Homo sapiens: one gene and its partners. The protein of the gene in region 3 purifies or fractionates together with the protein of the main gene of each other region. This does not show direct contact. Each region holds a gene or a part of one and is shown on either strand. Other genes may lie near its edges.

Region 1 (7,037 bases), on a different chromosome or scaffold from region 3:
GTGATAAGGAGAATAGTTTCTGTGTTCAGAACATATTTTACTAATGTGCCACATGACCTTTACTGCATTACTCATAAAACTGTGAGTCTAAAATAGATGATGAAAGAGAATAAGTATTCATTTCAAAAATGTTATAAAAATGATACAAAAAACCCTTCCCCTTTATATAAAATCCTATCATGAAAATCATTTTACAAAAAATAGAAATAAAAACTTTTCAGCTTTATAAACTATTTTTTTTAATGAGCGGGACCTTGGACCAAAAAAGGTATTATCATATCCATCCTATCAATTAAGATGCATGATGTATCCATTGTAAGCACTAACAGTTGTTGAAGACTGTAGGAAACAAAAGAATAGTCAACCAAAAGAAAAAAAGCTCCATAAACAGGACAATGAGTCCCATATTTGATCTTGAAAATTTAATTTGGAAGAACACTAAAAAAGACACAAAATGGCAAACCCCAGCACATGCACAAGTATTTCAGTGGGAAATTATGTACCTTGGGATTGTGAAAGGAAAACAAATCTCCCCAAAATCACTAAACCAAAAGGAAAAGTCAAGTTGGGAATTGTGTTGGGCAAACCTCTCTCCCTTTCTATTCCTAAATAAGATCACTACAAAGATTTTTAAAAAGCTACATACCTCCCTCACAATTTGCCCATAAGGAAATTCCTTGTGGACAACCAAAGGACAGGCAGAACTCAAAGTCATTCCTCTGTTCCCATGAGACAAATGCGTATCTGATGGCTTCCTCCGCCCTACTGTTTCACTACAGACTAAGGCATAAGTGACTATTCCTCATTTGTCTCTTAACTAACTATGACCCAGAAGCCTCCTCCCCACTTCGAGTTGTCTGGCCTTTCCTGATGGAACCAATGAATTATACATCTTACAAACGTTGATTAATGTTTCATGTCTCCCTAAAACATGTAAAATCAAGCTGTGCCCCTACCGCCTGGGGCACGTCATCAGGACCTGAGGCTGTGCCACAGGTGCATCCTTAACCTTGGTAAAATAAACTTTCTAAATTAATTTGGTAATCTAAATTATTTTGGTTTACAGGATCAATGAAGAATTCCTACTGAAGCAAATCATTTCTTAAAATGTAACTGTAATCTCTGATCCCATTTCTGGCCATTGCTTTAGTGGTTGATTCTCTCTTCAGTTTTAAGGGATAAACACAACCAGGTCATTCCGTTCACCTTCATCAAAAGAAGGTTTGCAAGCTGACACAGATGTCATGATGCTGTCAATAATAAGAAGCTGACATCATGAGGTTACTGCTGGAATCAGGATTTTAATGTCAACAATGATAACTCTCCAAAATAAAACAACTGCCAACCACAAACCCAGGTTAAAATAATCTCATCTTGATACTATGAGCTATTTTTTCAATTGAAAGATTCTAGCAAACTTAATCTAATACCTCAACCTTAGTCAGAAAAACTTTCGTCTTAACTGTTTCACCTACATCAAACTTAGCTGAGCCTCAGGCTTCACATTTGAAAAATGGAGATGATATAGTATCTACTGCAGGGTTACTGTGAAAATGAGACAATGCATTGTAGGGGCTTATCACCGTGCTTGGCATATAACAAATGTTAGACAATATTTTTCATGTGTTTGACAGTGTGTTGTAGGTACTAAAAACAATTTTCTAATTATCATTGATTTTGCTTACATAGCTTAAACCAAAGTAACACAGGTGTAGAAAATAAGGATTTGAACTCACAGCTCAGCATCTTCTTAATATGCCTCATATCCATGTGTAAAACTTTTTCTCTATACTTTAGCTTGTGTAAATTTTCTCATGATGATTTTAAATCCACATAAATAAGACTAGTTTAACAAATGTGCAAAGTCAGATCACAGAAACATGATTCAAAACATTTCAAAGCAATATAAAATGATTAAAACCACCATTAACTAGTAGCCATAATAACTCAATGAGAACACTGGCCTAGACCAAAAAAAAAAAAAAAAAAAAGACAGGTGAGAATACTCAAAAGAAAGAGTAGAAGTTAGTGAGTGACAGGGACAGGAGGCAGGGAAATTCTAGGCAGAAAAGGGCAGGTCCCTGAGAAAACCCCACCCTCAAGCCTGAAACCATGACGCAAAGTGAGAACTTATATCCCCATTTTCCCGTGCGAATGTTGCCTTTTCCGAAACCACTTACGGCCCACCCCACACCCCATCCTGTGTACATAAAAACCCCAGGCTCAGCCAGCAGAGAGAAGAGAAGCAGTTGGACATTAGAGACTACAGCTGGACATCAGAGAGAAGTGGCTCGACTTCAGAGGGACACCTTGACAGCGTAACTTCGAAGAAGAATCTGGCCAGAGACAGCTGGCATTCAGGGGAAGACTACCTTCCTGCCCTTTGCAGCTCCCCTTCCCACTAAGAGCCATCTCCATCAGCAATAAGATCCCCTACATTTACCATCCTTCAATTCATTCATGTGACCTCATTTCTCCTGGATGCCGGACAAGAGCTCGGGAACGATGAGTGTGGACACAAAAAGGCTGTCACACTTGCCCTTTGCCCTCACTGGTAGAAGGCAGCCGATTAACACAAAAAGGCAGAGGGCCCACTGAGCTGTTAACCCTTAAGCCGTCTGCGGACAGCAGAGCTAAAAGAGCACTGTAACATTCCCTCTGGAGCTTCAGGGGTTGCAGGCACCACCCCCGGAGATGCTACCACAGGGCCAGCACAGAGTTGACTCCTGCCAGTGCCCAAAAGCACTCGCCCCGGCTCCTGCACCCACTCAACTGCACATCCCCTCTTGTGAGGGGTGAAACACAGCAGGTCCGAGTGAGTGGAGTTCATTCCTCCTGGCACAAGAGCGGCAGGCTGACTCCAGCACTCATGTATTCCAGTTCCTGCCTTGTTCACTCACGTGCTCCCTCCTATGAGGAGTTGAAAGCGGTGGGCTGAGTAAACAGGGTGCTCCCTTCACAAGTCCCATGAAGGGGTCAGGAAAATATCCTGCTTCACCAGTACTTTTTAAAATGTGATAAAAACCAAATCAGTCAAGGAATACATTACCAACTTCAGCTCCTGATAAAATCCAGTATGAGATGAAACACTTATTTAAGCACCATACTGGCCAAGCTGCCTCTGGTCTCTTCTCCTGTCTGTTTGCAAACTGTTCTTTTCAAAAACACCCTCAATATGATAACATGCTAGCTCTCATAATCATGCTCTAAAAAAGCAGTATCTGTGATAAATTATCAACTCTTTTTACACCAAACCTTAAATGAAATTATTAGAAAAGCAAAAACAAAACATCAACCTTTCAATGTATCCCTATTTTGCTGGCCACAACTAAACGCCCCCAAAATGTTTCCAATGAGCACCAACAGTGATTTTTAGCCTATTTTACTTTTAAATATATTTATATACAGAACAGGCACAGACTAACTTTTTAGTTAAAGAATGCACTGAGACTGAATAGCAGATGATTTAGCATGAGTTAACAGGTCAATTATATGGAATTATAATTGTTTCTGTGCATTGGGATTTTATGTTAAACATGAGAATGTAATGGTGGGCTGCCATATTTGAATTTAATTACTGTAGCCTGTTATCCAAAACATCATGAAAACACTGGAGAAAATGAGAAAAATGACATGAGGCATGGGAGATGAAAATGATGCTGCAGAGGAAATTATGGCAACAGATGTGGCTCTCTCTGAGGTATTGGCTCAAATTCATGATTTACAGAGAAGGGTAAGCATCTCCCAGAGAGTCTTCTCCAGAGTTAGATAACTCTTTACTTTTCTAGGTATTGGAAGCAAACAAAAACATACTTTTCCATCAATAAATGCCTGAAGAAGTGCAAAGCATTTTTCAGAACAGCAAAATCTGCAGGCTATCTTTCACTCCTATAGCATCTCTTACGCTGACAACGGAGTGTTTCATACTATACCTCAAATAAGACCGATACTAAATCTGTTCCAAAAACTATGAGGAAAACAAATGATAAATAATGCAAGCTGGTGAACAAAAGAGAAGACAACAAAGAAAGGACTTTTGAAATACCATTTCACTCCTACTCACTATGTCATTCAGCTGATCAATATACTCTATGCTTTAAATTTTTTGAACCTGCCCTCCCCAAAAACATATGTGTGTATGTGTGTTTATGTATATATATATATATGTTATATATATGGTGTGTGTGTATATATATATATATATATATATATATATATACATATATATATAAAAAACAACATTCATCCTTACTACATGCATTCTGATATATTCTACCTCATTTTTATAATGCTGGAATTCACTCCATGATCCACTAATAGGTGGCATCTTACAATTTTTAAAAATCCACTGTAGACAATAGATGTGAAGATTTTGGAAGTACACAGGGAGGACTATGGACATCCTGTGATGTGAGAACCACATTCAGGCATCCTGGGAGAAGATTAAGTTAGAAATATAGGAAATCACTTGTGTTAAGGCTGGCACAAACAGATATTTGGTAAATATCAGTTTTCACAACTCCTCCTGCAATATTACTATCCCCCAAGGCTTACAGAAGTGATGCTATTCCAACATCATCATAAGTCAATGAGCTGCCAGTCAAGGTTAACTACCTTAATGTTTAAATTCACCAACATCAAGGAATGGGACTGGAACATCCCAACATCAAGGAAAGGCTACTTAAGTGACCTTTTCTGAAAAAAGCAGCCTATCATTTTTAAGAAAATGCCTTTTCTAATCAGTCACTGTATTAGGCTGTTCCTGTGTTGCCATAAAGGAATGCCTGAAACTGGGTAATTTATAAAGAAAAGAGGTTTAATTGGCTCAGGGTTCTGCAGGCTGTACAAGCATGGTACAGGCATCTGCTCGGCTTCTAGGGAGGCCTGAGGGAGCTTTTAGTCATAGCAGAAGGCAAAGGGGAAGCAGGCATCTCCCTTGGTGAGAGGCAAGGCAAGCAAGTGTGGGGAGATGCCACACACTTTTAAACAACCAGTCGACCAGGCACAGTGGCTCCCATCTGTAATCCCAGCAATTTGGGCCACCAAGGCAGGTAGATTGCTTGAGTTCAGAAGTGCAAAACCAGCCTGGGCAACATAGGCAGACCCCATCTCTACAAAAATAAAAAAAAAAAAATTAGCCAGGCATGGTGATGCATGTCTGTAATCTCAGCTACTCAGGAGTCTGAGGTGGGAGGATTGCTTGGGCCCAGGAGGTTAAGGCTGCAGTGGGCCATGATTGTGCCACTGCACTCCAACTAGGGTGACAGAGCAAGACCCTGTCTCAAAAAAAAAATTAAAAAATAAACCACCAGATCCTGCAAGAACGAATTCACTATTACAAGAAGAGTACCAAGCCATGAGGGATCCACTCCCATGACCCAAACACATCCCATCAGGCCCCACCTCCGACAACGAGGATAACATTTCAACATGAGATTTGGGCAGGACAAATATCTAAACCCTATCAGCCATTTTTATAGGAAAATTTCTGAAGTATATGAAACACTGACTTTCCTTCTTAAAAAGACTACACAGAACAGAATTTAGCCTTTTCTCAAGGACATGGTGTCATAAATAGATATATACAATGGTAATTTTAGGGCTGGTAGATCCCTACCTTGGAGATCATCTATTGAAATTTCTCACTTTACAGATGAACTAAATGATGTCACAAGAAATTCTGTAATTTTCCCAAAATCACACAATAGGATGGTCATGTGATTATCATACACCATGCTGCCACATCTACTACTGTATGGTGCTAAACACTATCTAGCAAGATAATCAGGATTTAGGGGCAGTACTCCTTATAATTTCCATGTTTATCTTTGCTATCCCTTCTCTTTCCCCATAATCTTTAGCAATAAAACTTTTTTTTTTTTTTGAGATAGGGTCTTGCTCTGTTGCCCAGGCTGAAGTGCAGTGACACAACTATAGCTCACTGCAGCCTCAAACTCCCAGTTTCAGGCAATCCTCCCACCTCAGCCTTCCAAGTAGCTGGGACTACAGGCACGTGTCACCATACCCAATTAATTTTTGTATTTTTTTTGTAGAAATACAGTTTTGCTGTGTCACCCATTTCAGCTACTTGGGAGGCTGAGGTTTCAAACTCCTGAGCTCAAGCAATCCACCTGCCTCGGCTTCCCCAAGTGCTGGGATTACAGGCCTGAGCCACTGCACCTGGCCAATGAAACTTTTTTTTTTTTTTGAGACAGTCTCACTCTGTTTCTCTGACTAGAGTGCAGTGGTGCCATCTAAGCTCACTGCAACCTCCGCCTTCCAGGATCAAGGGATGCCTGTGCCTTAGCCTATAGAGTAATGGGGATTACAGGCCCGTGCCACCATGCTTGGCTAACAATAAAACTCTTAAATCAAAAGAATATATGTGTTTATCCTATGCAGTAGAAAAATTAAGCTAACCTACTCTGCAGCCCATCTTAGGGGAAGAACTCCAAAAGATGTGAGCAGTGTGCTTTTAAAAAGAAAAAATGCAGGCTGAATGTCTACATGGTCTTCAAAAAGAAAGAAGGATGCAATGAAAAGCCTACATTGTCTTAAGAACAGCTTTGGGGATATGACTGTTAGGAAGGCCAGAACGTTCCTGAGAATAGGCAATACAGTAAACTTCACAAGGGAAGGGACTAGGTTCTCAGTAAATGTGGGTTGAATGACCTGAAAAATGAGTATTTGTCACTACACTAAATGTTATCAGGCCTTTGTGATGTTTGATGTAAGTTTGCATTTTAGGTGTTTTTCTCTTCCCTTTCCTATACAAACTGTCATTTGTATGTCTAATAGCAACCCCACCAAACATAGTCTTTGCAGAAGTTGATAACATTCCTTGTATCTTCTAAGGGGGTGGTTCTAATATGCTGAGCTTGCTAGAATTATTTTTAAAATGAGGATGAATATGTTCTAAGTGATGATCTCAGGGATTCCCCTATGTATGAAGCATGTCAATATTATCATATAGATCTTATAACTTCCATCTTGACTGCTCTTCTGTTGAGTTCTTGGCTCTGCTGTGCTGCAGATTA
Region 2 (7,915 bases), on a different chromosome or scaffold from region 3:
TCTTAAAATTAATCTCTTTTAAATGAGAGGACCCAACAAAGAGCCTAGCCTAGCTCGATTCTCCTTCCCCCTCCCCTCATTCCCACCCTAAGTGTGAGGTCTTTACACCTATAGCTTCTGAGGAGGACAGTCACATTTCGCTGAAACATGGATTTTGAGGAGCTGGGCAGATTGGAAGTCAAGATGACCTCCTGAAAGCCCTCTTTCCCTCCTCCCCCTCATTCTCCCTCACCAGTGCCTGCTGTACTCCTTCTACCTTCACCCACACCCACTTCCTTGCAGCCTAACCCCTAGCCAGCATTTGTTTTTTCTGGCCCCCTGAACAGATGGGTGCCTTTGCCTTGCCTAGACTCACCCTCCCTGCTTCCCCCGCCACAGGCAGCAGGCTTCATTGTTGCCCAACAAAGCCTGCATGGAGCCTCAGAGGGAGAAAGAGGGATACAGCACTCCCAGGCTAGGCTGAACCCTACAAAGATTGTCTGGGCCACCCCAGATGCAGGCTGGCAGGTTGCTGTGTCTCCCCCACCCACCTCCCCATTGACCCACACACTACTCCTTTCCATAGCTAGAAGCTACTCGACCTGTTCTTGGACTCAGCCCACAGCCCCCTTTCCGCAATCCTCACAGCCAGCTCCCACTTAACCTCACTTCTCTCCCTCACACCCTCATCCTGCCACACAAACAATGCCCAGTGGCTTTCCATCCTAGCTCTCCAAGCACCTCCCATCCCAAACCAGACTACCAGAGCCCTGTGTGGGCGTGTTGGGGGAGACAGACCCTGCAAGAAGGGGTTCAAGGTGTCCCCACCCCAACTGGCAAGCTCTGGAGATGAGCAGAACATATCCATTTCCAGACTCACCTCCCCTTAGAGTCTCCTCAAGACAAGTTTCTGTGCCCTCCCCCATCTTATGATGGGCTGGCCCAGTCCTCTCATTTTATAAACATGAAGCAAAGGGAAGTGACAGCCCCAGGAGCCAGGTGAAATTGGAGGCGAAACTGGCGGGTGAAAACATGGGACTCCCTGTCCAGTGTGGTCTACTATGCCACGTGACTCCTCACTAGTTAAGTTTCAAGCAGCTACAATTATTGGCTGAATCCACTGCCTGCACAACCCTGCGTTAAGCGCTTGTGGGGATAGAAAGGCGGAGGTGCACCCAGCCCTCAGGAACTCCCAGTCTGCTGAAGATAATCCTAATGAGATGTCCAGGATTCAATGTGAGTTGACAGAATAGCTATCCAACAAGTCCAGATGGGAGGGGACTCACAGGACAGAGCATGTGCCAGTGGCAGCATGGATAATAGTAATTACCACCAACATTTACATAACACAGCACTTACATGGGCTAAGCTTTGTTCTAAGTATATACGTTAACATACGTTAACTCTTTTAATCCCTGTGACATCCTATGAAGTAGACACTTTTATTCTTACTTTGCAGATGAGAAAACAGACACTGAGAGGTAAGGGGACTTGGTGAATCCCTAATAAGGGATGGGGCTGCCCCAGAGTCTATGTTCTCCTTTCTGCCACATTACCCCTCCCTTCACAGTGTAAAGGGATGGATAGGAGCAGGCTCTCTCCCTGGCCTCCACACAGGGAGGACGGAAAAGCATTAGAGTTGAGTTCCTGCCCTCTACAGCTCTGCGACTGGAGGAAAGTTAACTTAGATTAGCCCCCTCATCTGAACATACAAACTCTACTCACCTCACATGGCTTAGTGAGGACTAAATGCTTCCACATGTGAGTCACTCAACACAGGTTCTCTCATGAAAGACCAGTACAAAATAAACTAGGGGGTGGGGGGCTGGAGAAGAAAAGTCCCTTTTCTTGAATTCTTTAAAGATCTCTCAGCCATCTTTGCTTTCCTATCTCTTCCTCAATGATGTTCAGAGTTTGAGGATACTAAAAAGTCTTCACTTCCCAACCATGGGCCTGCTTATCTGAGGATCCCAGAGGGGCTTAGATTTGGGGAAAGCAAATTTGGCGGAAGTCATTGAGCAATATAGGGGAGGAGGGAGCAGTGATCTTATGAATCCCAGGACAGGAAGCCTAGTTCTGGGAGACGGGGAAAAAAACGCCTAGATAGGTACCGAAAAGAGGTTTCACTAAATGAAAAGAGGTACTTTTCCCCCCAAATTATTCCCTAACCACCTGAGCAGAAGAACAACCAAAACCTAAAACTTTTAATGACTTGAAACACTCTGAGGGGTGCTGGCAAGGACTGAGGGATCTTACCCAAAACCCTAAAGACAGAGGAATTAATTTCTCACCTGGAAGAAGCCACGTCCTGCCCTGTTCTGCTCTAGGATAAGGCTGAACCCTCCCAAGGTTAATAAAAAAGACAAGGAGAGTCAGCAAAGGATGGGTTACAGAGCCCTGGGACTACAGTAACAACTCATCGTTGGTGACACCGAGGTGACATGTTTAGTCAGTCGCACTATGAAGCAGGTGTCACAGGGACACCTGATCTCTCAGCTCTTGGGATAGGGAGGGAAAATGTTTAAGAAAGAGGGTGGGTGCAAGGCAAGGCTGAAAGGTACTAAGACACCTCACTGGACCCAAAGTCCCAGTCCTCTGCTTACCCGAATTTCTGGCCAAGCTCAGGGCTAGAAGGGGTGGCGTGGCTGGGGGGCAGGGAGGTTCTGAAGCGGGACTCCCAGGAACCTCTCCCGCTGGGCTAGCGGGTGAGACCGGGCGGTCCATCTGGAGAACATCGCTCCACTGAGGAGTGCCAACGGGTCCCTCCCAGAAGCGGTCAAGCAGATAGGCCGGGAGCTACTGGGGGAAAAGGGCAGTGTGCCGGGGCCACTCCTGCCCCGGGAAGCTGTGGACGCAGGCGGGGTGGGCTCACCTCCGAGGCAGCTCGCGCGGACTCCCCGGGGCAGGGCTGGGTCACCGGAGCCCCTGAGCTGCAGCTCCGGGCGCTGGACCTCAGAAGCCGCCGCAGCATCCGGGACAGTGGCCGCGCCGCCATGAAGCCTGATACGAGCGGAACCGCAGCCCGCTTCGGGAGCACACTGGCCGGGCACTCGCCCCCGGGGTCATCCCAGCAAGGGCGGGGAGGGGCAGGGGGAGGGCGGGACCCGCGCAGCCAATAGGCGAGGACGCAGTCCCGCGTGGCCTTGTGGGAGCTGTAGTACGCTCCCTGTGCCCACTTTCCTGGGCCGGGGTAGCGCTCTAGGGCAGAAGGGTAAACTCAGGTAAGGAACGGGGTTCTTTTCCTTCCAGTTTTTCTGGCTGCTCTAGTCTCAGATTTAGGTCGTGGTGTGACAGTAGGCAGGACAGGACAAGGGCCAAACGAATGAGGCACTGCCTTGGATGCAAAATTTAAGAGGGTGCCAGGTAAACTGCGGTTATCAAAGTAAGTAATTTTTTAATGTAATATTTCAAAAAATCGTAATAAATTTTCAGAAGTCCGTGAAATATCAACATTCTAAATAAAAAGATTTAGCCTACACTTGCATGACTCACATCACTCAGTGCACCATAGTGCAGATTGTGGTTGTAAAACGGTCAGTTAGGTCTTTCAAGATACACTTCTCCAGTTGTGCCCCAAAAGGATATTAACAATCTTTTTTTTTTTTTTTTTTTTCGTGGAGAAGGCAAGAGTATATGAGAAGTCACAGAATGAGTGGACAACATTTTTGAAATGCTTCTTATACACCAAGCACCATGCTAAATGTTATTTAAAACAATCCTGGTATGAATAGAATGTCCTTTTTGCAACTGAGGACATTGAGGCTTAGAGAGACCAGGTAATTTTCTCGAAGTCACACAGCTGATAGTGGGTTTCAAACCCAGGGCAATCTGCTTTCTACAGTCATTCAGTCAAGATTCAGTATGTGTTAGGAATGGTGGGGTGTGCCTCTTCCTCTCTATAAAAAGCAGAGTGCTGTAGTCCTTTAAGATTTTGGATAACACACACAATAATGAGCTTATGTACTAAGAATAATTATGCTCAAACCAGCCTGTTGTATCCAAAACCCTGTCCCTGTGGAATTGCAAGAATAAAACACCGGCTGGAACATACAGCTGCCAAGTGCATGCTTAGGAAGTGGGAATATAGCTCCTGATCTTGAAGAATTGACCGAATAGTGGGAGAGGAAAAAATAACTGAATATAACTGACTTTTACAAGTGCAGTGGGACTGTCAGAAAAGCTGAGATGATTTTAGCCTTAGATTCAATGTGAATTTCTCACAATGATACTCAAAATTCAGAAAATATATTGTAGGGGATGAAAGTGTATCTGGGGTGTGTTTGAAACTGATGAGACAAGTATGCCAGAGGTCTGTTTGCAAGGGGCCTGAAGACCAACTGAGGACTGTTCAAGCTCTGTCCACTGCTAAGTTTAGATATGTCTGGATTTATCAGGAAAACTGGGTATGGGGGAGAGAAGGATAAAAACTTTTTTTTTTTTTGTATGTATGAGGCTTGAAGAGCCTTCTAGAGAGGACTCAACCTCAGGGAAGAAGCCATCTGACATATGAACTTGATCCAAGAATGTCACCAGCTCCTTGGAGCCTCTCTAGATTCCACCCTCTTCATACAAGTTGTATGTGATCATCCCTTCACTTGGGCTTTACTGTCATCTTTTATAGAACTTGGGTCTCCAAGGCAAGACCTAAGGCTTACTCAGTTCTGTTTGAAGGCTGAAATCCTCTCCATATTATCATACATCTACTTGGACTCCTGTAGTGCTGGGAAACTTTCTGGCTTCCTGATGTTGTCTGGTCCACTTAAATGTTTCCCCACCTATTAAAGTTCTTACTTGTATTCAGCAAAAAAGTGCCCCTTTCTGTCAACATATGGTGATTAAGTGTCATCAGGGCCGAATCCTCTGCTAATGGCTGGGAATAAGGAAATACTTTCAAGGGCTCACAGCCTGCAGTAGGGCTCTGATGTGACAAGTCCATGGATTGATTTGGAGGGTTCTGTAGACCCCTGAACTTGAATGCATAATACTGTATTTTTTTTTCCTGGGGAATGGTGGCTTTTTGTCACATGCTCAAAGAGCCTCATGGAACATACTGTCCTAGAAATCTCTCTTTTGTGATACCCTCCTATTGGCCCTAGTTTTAGCCCCCTAGGCATATACATCCTCTCTTTGAGACTTTAACCCAAGTACTCTCTTAGTGATAAACAGCAGCAGTTATTGCCAACCCTTGTACACAATGTCTTGTGAGCCACTGCACTATCTTCTCTAATACAATTTGGTTTGCCTAGGTCCTGGTGGCAGACTGTATTTGCAAGATGGCTGCAACAATATTTCCTGTCTCGTATGTTCTAGAGCTGTGTTGTCCAATAGAAACTTCTGCAATAATGGAGATATTCCATGTCCTGACATAGCTATTGAACACATGAAATGTGGCTAGTGTGACTGAGAATTGAATTTCTAATTTTATTAAATTGTCATTAATTGAAGTGTAAACAGCCATGTGTGGCTACTGGCTACTGTATTATTCAGCCCTATGATAGAATTTTGCTTTCTCCAGAAGGGGTGGAATTAACTTTCCTTCCTTTGCATCTGGGTCAGTTTGTAACTTGTTTGTAACAGTGTGAAAGTGATACTGCATGGCTTTTGAGACTAGGTCAGAAAAATATGATGCAATTCCCACCTTACAATTTATCTCTAGTGATCTGTTCTCCAGCTGACAGGAAGATATGTTTCTCCTTATTCCCTACCCATTTTCTCCGCACTTGACTTTCATCTCCCAACTCCCCCTCAAAAAAAGATCCAGGATGTGATTTCCAGCCATATGTCCATTGTCTCTTCTAATAGGAACCTCAAGTGTCCAGTCATCTGAATATTCATTCAAACCTATCCCCATTCTATCAGTAACTGTGGACTCTCCTTGCAATTTTAAGCATTTTAATGAAGCAATAAAGTTTCAAAAAATATTGTATCAATTATTCCTATCATTTCTCTTTTGAGGACCTTGTTCAGGATAGTCTTTATTTGCCCCTCCAGATCCTTCTCCACCCTGCTCTGAGGACCAGGAGATTGACTTCTACCAACTGCATTGATGGCATCATCCAGGTGCCCTGACCTCTGGTTTCCAGGTGGATCTTGCCAATAGGGAGCATGGCAGGAGATCAGAGAGCAGGAGGAGAGAAAAGCTGGATTATCTATTCTTCCTGATCTCCCCTGTTTTGCTCTGGCTACAGCTGTAGTTGGTGTCATCTGGCCTCTCCGCCATGATTCCACCTCCCACTTAGTCCAGTAACACTATTTCTCACATTTGTTTCTTCACTTCAGACTGGGGTGGGATTGGCTTTCTTCTGCTGATTGTCCTTGGATGCCTCAGCATTCCTGTTGCCCCCCTCAGCCCGCCCACCTTAACCTTGCCCACACCTCCAAAATAGTCTCTCTTAATGGTAAAGAGCAGCAGTTACTTTTTTATTAAAACTTCATTAAAATATCCCTTCAAAACTTTTAGCTGAGTATGCCGTTTCTTGCTGGTTCCCTGATACAGGATTCGTGGACTCCTCCCTTCCATAGTACCCTTTGTTAATAGTGGCAATTACAACAGAGTGACATTGTTTATTTATATGCCTTCTGCACTATAAACCCTCTGAGGGCTGTTGCCAAATCTAAATCATCTGTAATCATACCACCTAGCATGGTATTTAATGCACAATAGGCTCACAATAAGTACATTAAATGGCAGATTCCATATCCTTGATTTGCCTGTAAGATGGCTGTTATGATTTGGATATGGTTTTTCTGTCTCCACCAAATCTCATGTTGAAATTTGATCCCCAGTGTGGCAGTGGTGGAAGGTGTGGGTCATGGGGGTAGATCCCTCATGAATGGCTTGGTGCTGTTCTCATGCTAGTGAGCAAGTTCCCAGGGGAAGGGATTAGTTCCCATGAAAGTGTGTTGTTATAAAGCCAGGACACTTGTCCAGTTTGGCCCTTTTGTACTGATGCTAGCTTCCCCTTTGATCTTCTCCACCATATCTTGACATAGCACAAAAGCTTTCACCAGAGGCTGAGCAGATGCTAATGTCATGCTTCTTGTAATGAGATAAATAAACCTCTTATCAATTGCCCAGCCCCAGGTATTCCTTCTATAGAAGTACAAAACAGACTAAGACAGCTGTGTCAGTCAGCCTGGGCTAGATTGTACTGTTGTAACAAATAACTCTAATATCTCAAAGGCTGAAAATCACAAGTGTTTATTCTCTCATTTGGGCTACATGTCCAGGAAAGGTGTATTTGTCTGCTTTACATTGCTGTAAAGGAATAATGGAGACTAGGTAATTTATAAAGAAAATAGGTTCATTTGGCTTATGGTTCTGTGGGTGTATAAGAAGCATGGTACCAGCGTCTGTTTCTGGTGAGGGCTTCAGGAAGCTTCCAATTATGGTAGAAGGCAGAGGGAAGCAGGCATGACATGGGGAGAGGAGGGAAGTCACATTAAACAACGAGCTCTTGCATAAGCTAATGCAGTAAAAACTCACTTGTCACCTAGGGGATAACACCAACCTATTCCTGAGGGATTTGTTCCCTTAGCCCAAACACCTCCCACCAGGCACCACCCTCCAACACTGGGGATCAAATTTCAACATGAGATCTGTAGAGGACAAACATCCAAACTATATCCAAGAGTTAGCTGTGAACTTTGTTTCTGGTCAGTGTTGCCCTCACTCTGGGTCCCGGCCTGATAGGGCAGCGAATATCCACATAGAACATTGGTGGTTACCAAGAGGGAAAAAGAGTGTGGCAAACAGCAAACTGGCTCTTACAGCTTCTTCCTGGAAGTGTCACACATCACTCTGCTTTAAGCAAGTCACATGGCTGTATCTAATTTCAAAGGGAAGAGCAGCTTAGTCCTCTCTCAGAGAGGGAACGCACATGCTGGCGAACAGTAAAATAACCTTACTCCAGGAACAAACTTCCCCTTGCTCTCT
Region 3 (7,483 bases):
CCCTGCTGGAATTTTCCACTGAGATAAGCAAGGATAAAGGTTTGGAGGCAAGGCAGACACCACAATTCCTGCTTATCTCAAAGGCCTTAGGAGATAAGGGCATTCTGGAGAAGCTGACCTCAGGTAATTATCACAGCTGAGCTGAGTCTTCACAGCAGCTCCGCAAGAAAACCCCAAGGAGGAGGGGGCGCGCTTCCCCACAAATCCCCTGAGGACTTCGGCCCATTGTTCCCTGGCCAGAGGGGGGTCACCTGGTCACATCTGCAAGAAAGAAGATACGGAGAGGCACTAACAACCTGAACCACAGTGGGGAATCTCCTCATAAGGAACAAGGGGGGCACGGATCTGGGGCAGGCCGTTAGCAATGCCTGTTGCAAGCCTTGAGAGCTGCTTCAACATCTCTGAAATGTTTATGCAGCAGTAGGCCTGGCTCTCCACGCAACCCCAGGGCAGTAAAGAGTGGAAAGTTACAAAGGACTGACTTGGCTAGAAAGGAACCCACATGGGATAAACTCTCAGAGGAAATCCCATCACTGTCAATATTTGAGCAGAACCCGAGACATCAGGTGGCAGGAGAGTTGCAGAGATTCTTCAGCCCCTGGGCGGGCACTCAGGCCACATCCTCCCCAGGGGGCCCTTCCTGCTCCACAATGATATAATTTTACATGTTTTGGAAGGAGAATGTGTGCATGCCTGCCTACGTGGCCTGTGTAAGTGGCATTGCGAATATTCTCCCTGTCAATGGTAACACAGAAAAGTTGATAAAATGGCCAGAGACAAACTTAAAAATTGGTATGTGTTAAAATAATATTAATTCTGGTCCTGTAAGTAAATTGCTTATGTTCCGTTTTGCCTCATTTCCACTACAAGCAATGATGATTGTGCACGATACCACATCTATGTGGCATTATGGATACTGTCTGGGCGGTGAGTCCTGACCCGCCTTCCACGAGAGGTTTGTGTCTGAGCTTGCCATCCCATGTCCCCATGGGAATGCACCTTCTGATTTACACGAGCGCACCACAGGCTTCCTGCTCACGCTGGATGGCCCTTAGTGCATAGAGTGATCCGTCACAGAGGCTGGAAGCGGAGGGAGGTTTAGAACCATCTGGCTCAGCCCCCTTACTTTGGAGGCGAGTAAATTGGTGTTGGGAGGAGCTGACTGGTTCCCGAGGGAGGATCTGGCAGGTTGCTCCCAGATGACCTCTGTGCAGGAGGGGAAGCTGTGAGCCCCCAGACCCTCTTAAGTATCTGAGTTCTGGCCTTTCACTGTACCCTTGGGCCTTCATGAGGAGGGTGTCAGGTTGCTTGAGATCAGCATGAGCACCAGGCCTTGCCACACTGGCCAAGCAGGAGGCGGGCTTCGGCACTGGCTCCCCTGCCACCCGCCCGCGTGTGCCAGTGGGCTGTGAAGTCACCTGGGCTGGGGGGGCCTCCCTTGTGTGAGCTTTGGTTCAGGCACTGTGGACAACGGACTCTAGGATGGGCCCCAAGATTCCAAGCCCCTGGTGGACATGTCTGTCCCCTTGAGTGTGTGCAGGGCTGGGACTGTGATGGTGTCACTCCTGAGATCAGGTTATATTACATGGTAAAGGTGAAGGGATTTTGCAGATGTAATTAGGGTCCCTTGTCCATTGACTGTGAGTTGAGCAAAAGGGAGATTGTGCTGGGGGTGTCTGCCCCAATCAGGTGGGCCCTTTAAAAGAGGATCTAGAAGTCAGAGAGCATCTCTCGCTGGCCTTGAGAAAGCAAGCTGCCCTGTGTGAAGGGGCCTTGAAGAGCTGACAGCAGCTGCCCACTGACGCCAGCAGGAATGGGGACCTCAGCCTACTGAGGGAACTGAATTCTGCCAACAAACATGTGGGCTCAGAAGAGGACCCTGAACTCAGAAGGAGACCCCAGCCTGGCCAGTGTCTTGACTGCAGCCTGTGGGACCCTGAGCAGCGAGGCTGAGCCCCGACTCCGGGCCGCAGGAGCTGTGAGGCCATAACTGCGTGTTACTGTAAGCCGCCGAGTCAGTGGGTATGTGTTACACATCCAGAGATAACTACACAGGCATCGACCCTGTCCACCCGGGGATGCTAGAGGGGCTGTGCTGGTTTTACTCCAGGCCATGGTGAGAGCCACTGTGAACACAGGGCTCTCTCCTCTGAGCTGCAGAAGCTCTGTGCCCTGTCCCCTGCCACAAGTCACAGACTTTCTTCATGTGTTTTACCTCATGTTAATGAAGGAGATCTTCTCCAGGGGCTTGATCTAGTGGGAAACAGAGGAGGGGGGGATTTTAAATTTCAGTCCGTCCAACCCTGTAGATCTGCTGTCCTACAGTAACGTAAAGGATCACCAGGTAAAACGCTGCTTCTCCCGGACGCCGCCACCTTGCCCCTCTCTCTCACATGGACACTGGTGCCTGGGTTGGGAGTATGGCCGGTGACTTCGTGGCAGTGTGGGGAGGGGATGTGTGTCCTTACATCTGTGAGAGGTCCTCGCTTCCCCGTGGTCTCTGCTGAAAATGTCTGCCTGGACCGCCAGCCTCTGAGGCACCTTGGCCCTGCCTGCACCAGCTCCTGAGCCTGCCTGTCTTGGTGTCTCCTTCTGCTGTCCCGTGCCTGGCCCTCAGGGCCTCTCTGCACCGTCACCGGTCACTTCTGAGATCTTACGCATGTGCATTGCTCAAAGGGTGGCTGGGGTGCCACGTGGCACAGCTCTGTGCTGTTTGGGGACTGGCTTGGGGTCTTTGAGGGGTTTTCGCCTTCTAGGGAGTCGGGACCCTCTCTAACATGAGCGATGGGCTGTGACATAATCACAGTTGAGCTTAGCTGATTCCAAAACTCCCTTCTCCACACAAGGCCTGGCTTTCAAACCTGTTGTCTGACTGTAGGTACAAACCTCCCATTTTGGGTGTAAAAAGCTGGTTCTTAACCATTTTGTCTTTTTAATTTTTTTTTTTTTTTTTTTTTACTTTTTGAGATAGTTTCACTCTGTTGCCCAGGCTGGCATGCAGTGGCATGATCTCAGCTCACTGCAACCTCTGCCTCCCAGGTTCAAGCAATTCTCCTGCCTCAGCTAGGATTATAGGTGCATGCCACCACACCTGGCTAATTTTTTTTTTTGTATTTTTCATAGAGATGAGGTTTCTCCATGTTGGTCAGGCTGGTCTCGAACTCCTGACCTCAAGTGATCCGCCCAGCTCGCCTTCCAAAGTGCTGGGATTCCAGGCTCGAGCCACCGCGCTGGCCTCTTTTTGCATTCTTGCTATAAAATTGGTATTTGTATCTTCCTCCCATTCTGCGCTCCCCCAACCCTGCAGGAAGGTGGATTCTTCAAGGGAACTGGAGAGAAGAGAAGCACATTCATGTATTTCCACATTCAGCCTCCATCTCACGAGTTACACCATTCCCAGCACGTCACCACCCCCAGACCTTTGGTTACCAGCCTGGGGGCAGAGGATAAGGACGTCATTCAAAAATAGAGAGATTCTCAAGCCTCCAGAGTGCGGGGGCCCAGCCGAGCATGCTGGCGGCTTCCAGGGAGGTGGCCACGCCCCAGGGGAAGTGGTTGCATGGAGGAAGAATCTCAGAGGAGGCTTGGACGTGGTAGAGCAACGCTAGTCCTGTGTTAGGACTGGCTAGTCCGTCCTGCAGGGATGAGGGGCAGAGCCTCAGCAGAAGTCCAGGCCAGTGTCCCCCCTCCAGCATAAGAGCCCCCCACTCCCACAGGGCGGAGGAACCACTGTGGTGGCGGAGCTTATTTCCCAGCAGCCCCGCGGGATGAGACCCAAACGAGAAGTTAGGGTGAGTTTGGAGGACATAAAGTGAGCTGGCTTCCCGTATACTGGCTGTGTGGAGTAATGTTCACGGCAACAGATTTCCATCTCCTCAGCCTCAGGCCCAACCCTGCTACCCCAGCCATACTCAGAGGCTCTGGAAATCTTACCTGGAGGAGACTCTTCTGTTACCACCAAGCCAGGAAGTTTCATGGCTTGGGAAGACCAAGAGGAAGTCCACCTCCCCCTCTCCTGCACCTGGAGTCTCCCATGTGCACGGAGGCCACGCCCCCACCCCGCCCTCAGGTGGCATCAGCCCAGGATCTGACCCTGGACTGGCTCACACTCAGTTGCCTCTGGCCAGTGCAGGGCTCAGCCAGGGATGGCTTCTAGCTGACAGTGGGAGGAATTAATTCATCTGACCGGAATATTCTTTTCTCTTCTGGGCTGTTGGTTTTTCAAGTGCAACAAAGATTCCATACAGCTCCAAGGAAGGAGCCAAGAAAAACATTCTGTGCCAAAGTGAGATCCTGGAAGTGAAACCCCGGAATAAAGCTGAAAAACGGGCTCCAGTTGGGTGCCAGGAAATGCAGGACTGGAATGTGACTTGACTTCCGGCAGCGCGCAGGTGCTCCCGGGTCACCTGCTTTGAGGTCCAGCCTCCTGCCCTGCCTCAGGTGACCACATGACCACTGTGGACTTTGCCCTGAAACCTTCTGGGAGGAGAAGAGGCCTGACCTTGGCGCTGGGGTCCAGTGGGCATTGCTCTGGTCCGAGGCTGCTGCTCTTGACCTCTGCTCTGCGGCTGTTTTCCATTGGAGTAGAGGCTCCTCCTGTCCTGTCCTGCCTGTGGAGGGAAGCAAACCTTCCCCTGGACCAGAGAGAGGAGAAAGCGGAGACAGGTAGCAACGCTGTGGACTGGTGATGACAGGCTCTTCAGCTCCCTGCAAGTGACCGGGCCTGGGGAACAGGTGAGTCATTGTTTAAACCTCTGTGCCCTTTGTGGAGTGTCTGCCTGTGTGTGTGTGTGTCTCTGCTTCTCTGTGTGTGAGTCTCTGTGTGTCTGTGTGTGTGCTCACGTGTTTGTACCCATGTCTGTATTTGTTTGTGTCTGTGCATGTGCCCATGTGTGTATAATCAAAGGACAAAGCTGGGGCGGAGACTTCCTAGTTCAGATTTCTGATGGCTCACTAAGTCGGATTCCCAGAAGGAGATTCTTATTTGCATTTTTCTTCGGGAAAGTTCCGGTTTTAAGGTCTTGAAAAAAAAAAACACAAAAAACTTCTGGTAATGAGAAGAACTCTTAAAGAAATCCATTTCAAATGACATCAACATTCCCAATTTAATACCCAGTGATATCTAGGAAGCTTGTCAGGTTTTCTTGTAAACTCCTTTTTACAATCTACATTGTGTTTTCTGTATCAGATGGCTGTATTCTGAATGCAATGTACAGGTGTACCTCTCGTAATCTCAATATTCTTCACAGGCCCCAGGCAAGGGTGACACAGGATCACAGTTGCCGATAGACTCATCAATCAGACCCTTCCCTGGAATGGCCCCTTCCCCGCAAAAAAGACTAATGTGGGATTTGCTCTCCGTTTTTTTTCCCTTTAGTGGAAGGGAGGTGCAAGAGATTAAAAAGCCCCAAGTTAAGATTACTAGAGAAGCGCCAGTCTTGAATATGGTGTTCCTGAAAACATCTTTGTCTTCAACAACCTAATAACATCTTTCACTACTAATAACCCCATCTTGATTAAATTCTGGAGGTGGGGGTCAGGTGCCACACTTTTAATTTTCTCTTTGGACAGAAGGCTCCAACCTCTCATTATTGAAAGCTTACAACACTCAATCACACAAAAAGTTATATAAGAAAATGTTTACTGCAGTCTTATTACAGAGAAAAAATTAAAACTAAGTAAAAATCCAGTATTAGGAAAATGGTTCAGCAAGTTGAGATAGTTGTAGAAATGTTATATGTCCATTAAACATGATTTTGAAGCAATGTGTGAGACTGCCTTTGGTATTAAGTATTTCTTACCCATCGGATAATAATTTTATGTTAAAACTATGGGTTTTGGTTTGTTTTTAGGAGTCATAGAAAAAAACTAGAAGTAGGCAAAAATACCATTTGTGGTTGTATTACGGGGGTGGAGTTATGGGTAGCTGCTTCTTTTATATTGACACTTGTATGTTTATAGTAAAATAACCTTTTTTTTTGGAGACAGATTCTCGCTCTGTCACCCAGGCTGGAGTGCAATGGTGGGATTTTGGCTCGCTGAAACCTCTGCCTCCTGGGTTCAAGCGATTTTCCTGCCTCAGCCTCCCGAGTAGCTGGGATTACAAGCGTGTGCCACCACACCCAGCTAATTTTTGTATTTTTAGTAGAGATGGGGTTTCACCGTGTTGGACAGGCTGGTCTCCAACTCCTGACCTCAAGTGATCCACCTGCCTCGTCTTCTCAAAGTGCCTTTACAGGCATGAGCCACTGCGCCCAGCCCAAAAATAAAATAACTTCATTAAACAAAGAGACATATCATTGTCAAAGGAATGAGACGCCGGCATCCCAGTGGTCATGGTGCATTCCTTCAGAGTCCACCTGTTTCAGTTAATTCAGACATGTTTCGGGCTACAGATTTTTTGACTTAGGAAAGGTTTTATTAACCTATGCAAATAAATAGCAAAGAGAACTTGAAGGGGTATCTCTGTTTATTTTAAATTATTTTTTATTTCAATAGATTTTAGGGGAACAGGTGGTATTTGGTTACAGGGATATGTTCTTTAGTGATTTCTGAGATTTTGTTGCACCCCATACCAGAGCGGTGTACACTGTAGCCATTGAGTAGTCTTTTTTCCCTCACCCCGCCCCCGCTACCCTTTCCCCTTCCACCAAAGGGTGGAAAGTCTGGGCCGTGCCTTGACCTCTGAGAGCCTGTCCCCAGCTGACTTGAGCGGATCATCTGCTGGACTAAGTTCCCACCCCAGGCACTCTCACTGTGCCTCAGATGCTGTCTTAGTCTGTTTGTGCTGCTTTAACAGAATTCCTGGGACAGAAATGTATAAAGAACAAAGATTTGTTTCTTATGGTTCTGGAGGCTGGGAAGTCCAAGGCCAAGGGGTCTACATCTGTTGAGGGCCTTCTTGCTGTGTCATCCCACAGTGGAAGGTGAAAGGGCAAGAGAACACGCAGGCTTGTGGATGTGCAAGACGCAGCAGTGTTAATCTGTGCTGGGCGTGGATTAACGAGGGCAGAGTCCTCATGACCCAACCCCCTTCCATTAGGCCCCACCTCCTAGCATGGTTGCACTGGGGACTAAGTTTCCAAATCTGCTTTTTGGAAGATCCATGCAAACCATAGCTGGCCCCAAGAAATCATCCTCAATCCAGGTGGATATTTCAAAGCACAGGTGCTGTGTTATGTGCTCTTCATGCTTGGCCTCATTCATTCATTTCTTAGGAATTAGTACTTACTATGTGCTAGACACTGTTCCCAGCTCCAAGGAAAACAGAATTCTAGCAGTGATTCCTAGTCTTGGCTGCATACTGAGATCACCTGGAGAGCTTTTCTTTTTCTTTTTCTTTCTTTTTCTTTTCTTTTTTTTTTTTTTAAGAAACACAGATGGAAAACTTAATGTTATGTTTTTTATCCGTCTCTGAAGCCAGCATCATACTTGATGGTGAAACTTGAGTATTTCCAGCTAAGATGGGGTTCCAGGCATGTTT

What was found.
Region 1: the proteins of RAB17 (region 3) and CHM purify together in Homo sapiens (affinity purification with mass spectrometry; 3 studies listed by BioGRID and IntAct, with this or other methods). This does not show direct contact.
Region 2: the proteins of RAB17 (region 3) and MOCS1 purify together in Homo sapiens (affinity purification with mass spectrometry; 3 studies listed by BioGRID and IntAct, with this or other methods). This does not show direct contact.

What each region holds. Positions count from the first base shown.
Region 1 is NC_000023.11:86,037,540-86,044,576, forward strand, and holds part of CHM (rab proteins geranylgeranyltransferase component A 1), read right to left. Parts: intron 1-7,037. UniProt on the Homo sapiens protein: Substrate-binding subunit of the Rab geranylgeranyltransferase (GGTase) complex.
Region 2 is NC_000006.12:39,931,444-39,939,358, forward strand, and holds the start of MOCS1 (molybdenum cofactor biosynthesis protein 1), read right to left. Parts: upstream 3,020-7,915; 5' UTR 2,975-3,019; coding exon 2,852-2,974; intron 2,781-2,851; exon of another isoform or gene 2,583-2,780; intron 1-2,582. UniProt on the Homo sapiens protein: Isoform MOCS1A and isoform MOCS1B probably form a complex that catalyzes the conversion of 5'-GTP to cyclic pyranopterin monophosphate (cPMP).
Region 3 is NC_000002.12:237,587,718-237,595,200, reverse strand, and holds the start of RAB17 (ras-related protein Rab-17), read left to right. Parts: upstream 1-4,466; 5' UTR 4,467-4,734; intron 4,735-7,483. UniProt on the Homo sapiens protein: The small GTPases Rab are key regulators of intracellular membrane trafficking, from the formation of transport vesicles to their fusion with membranes.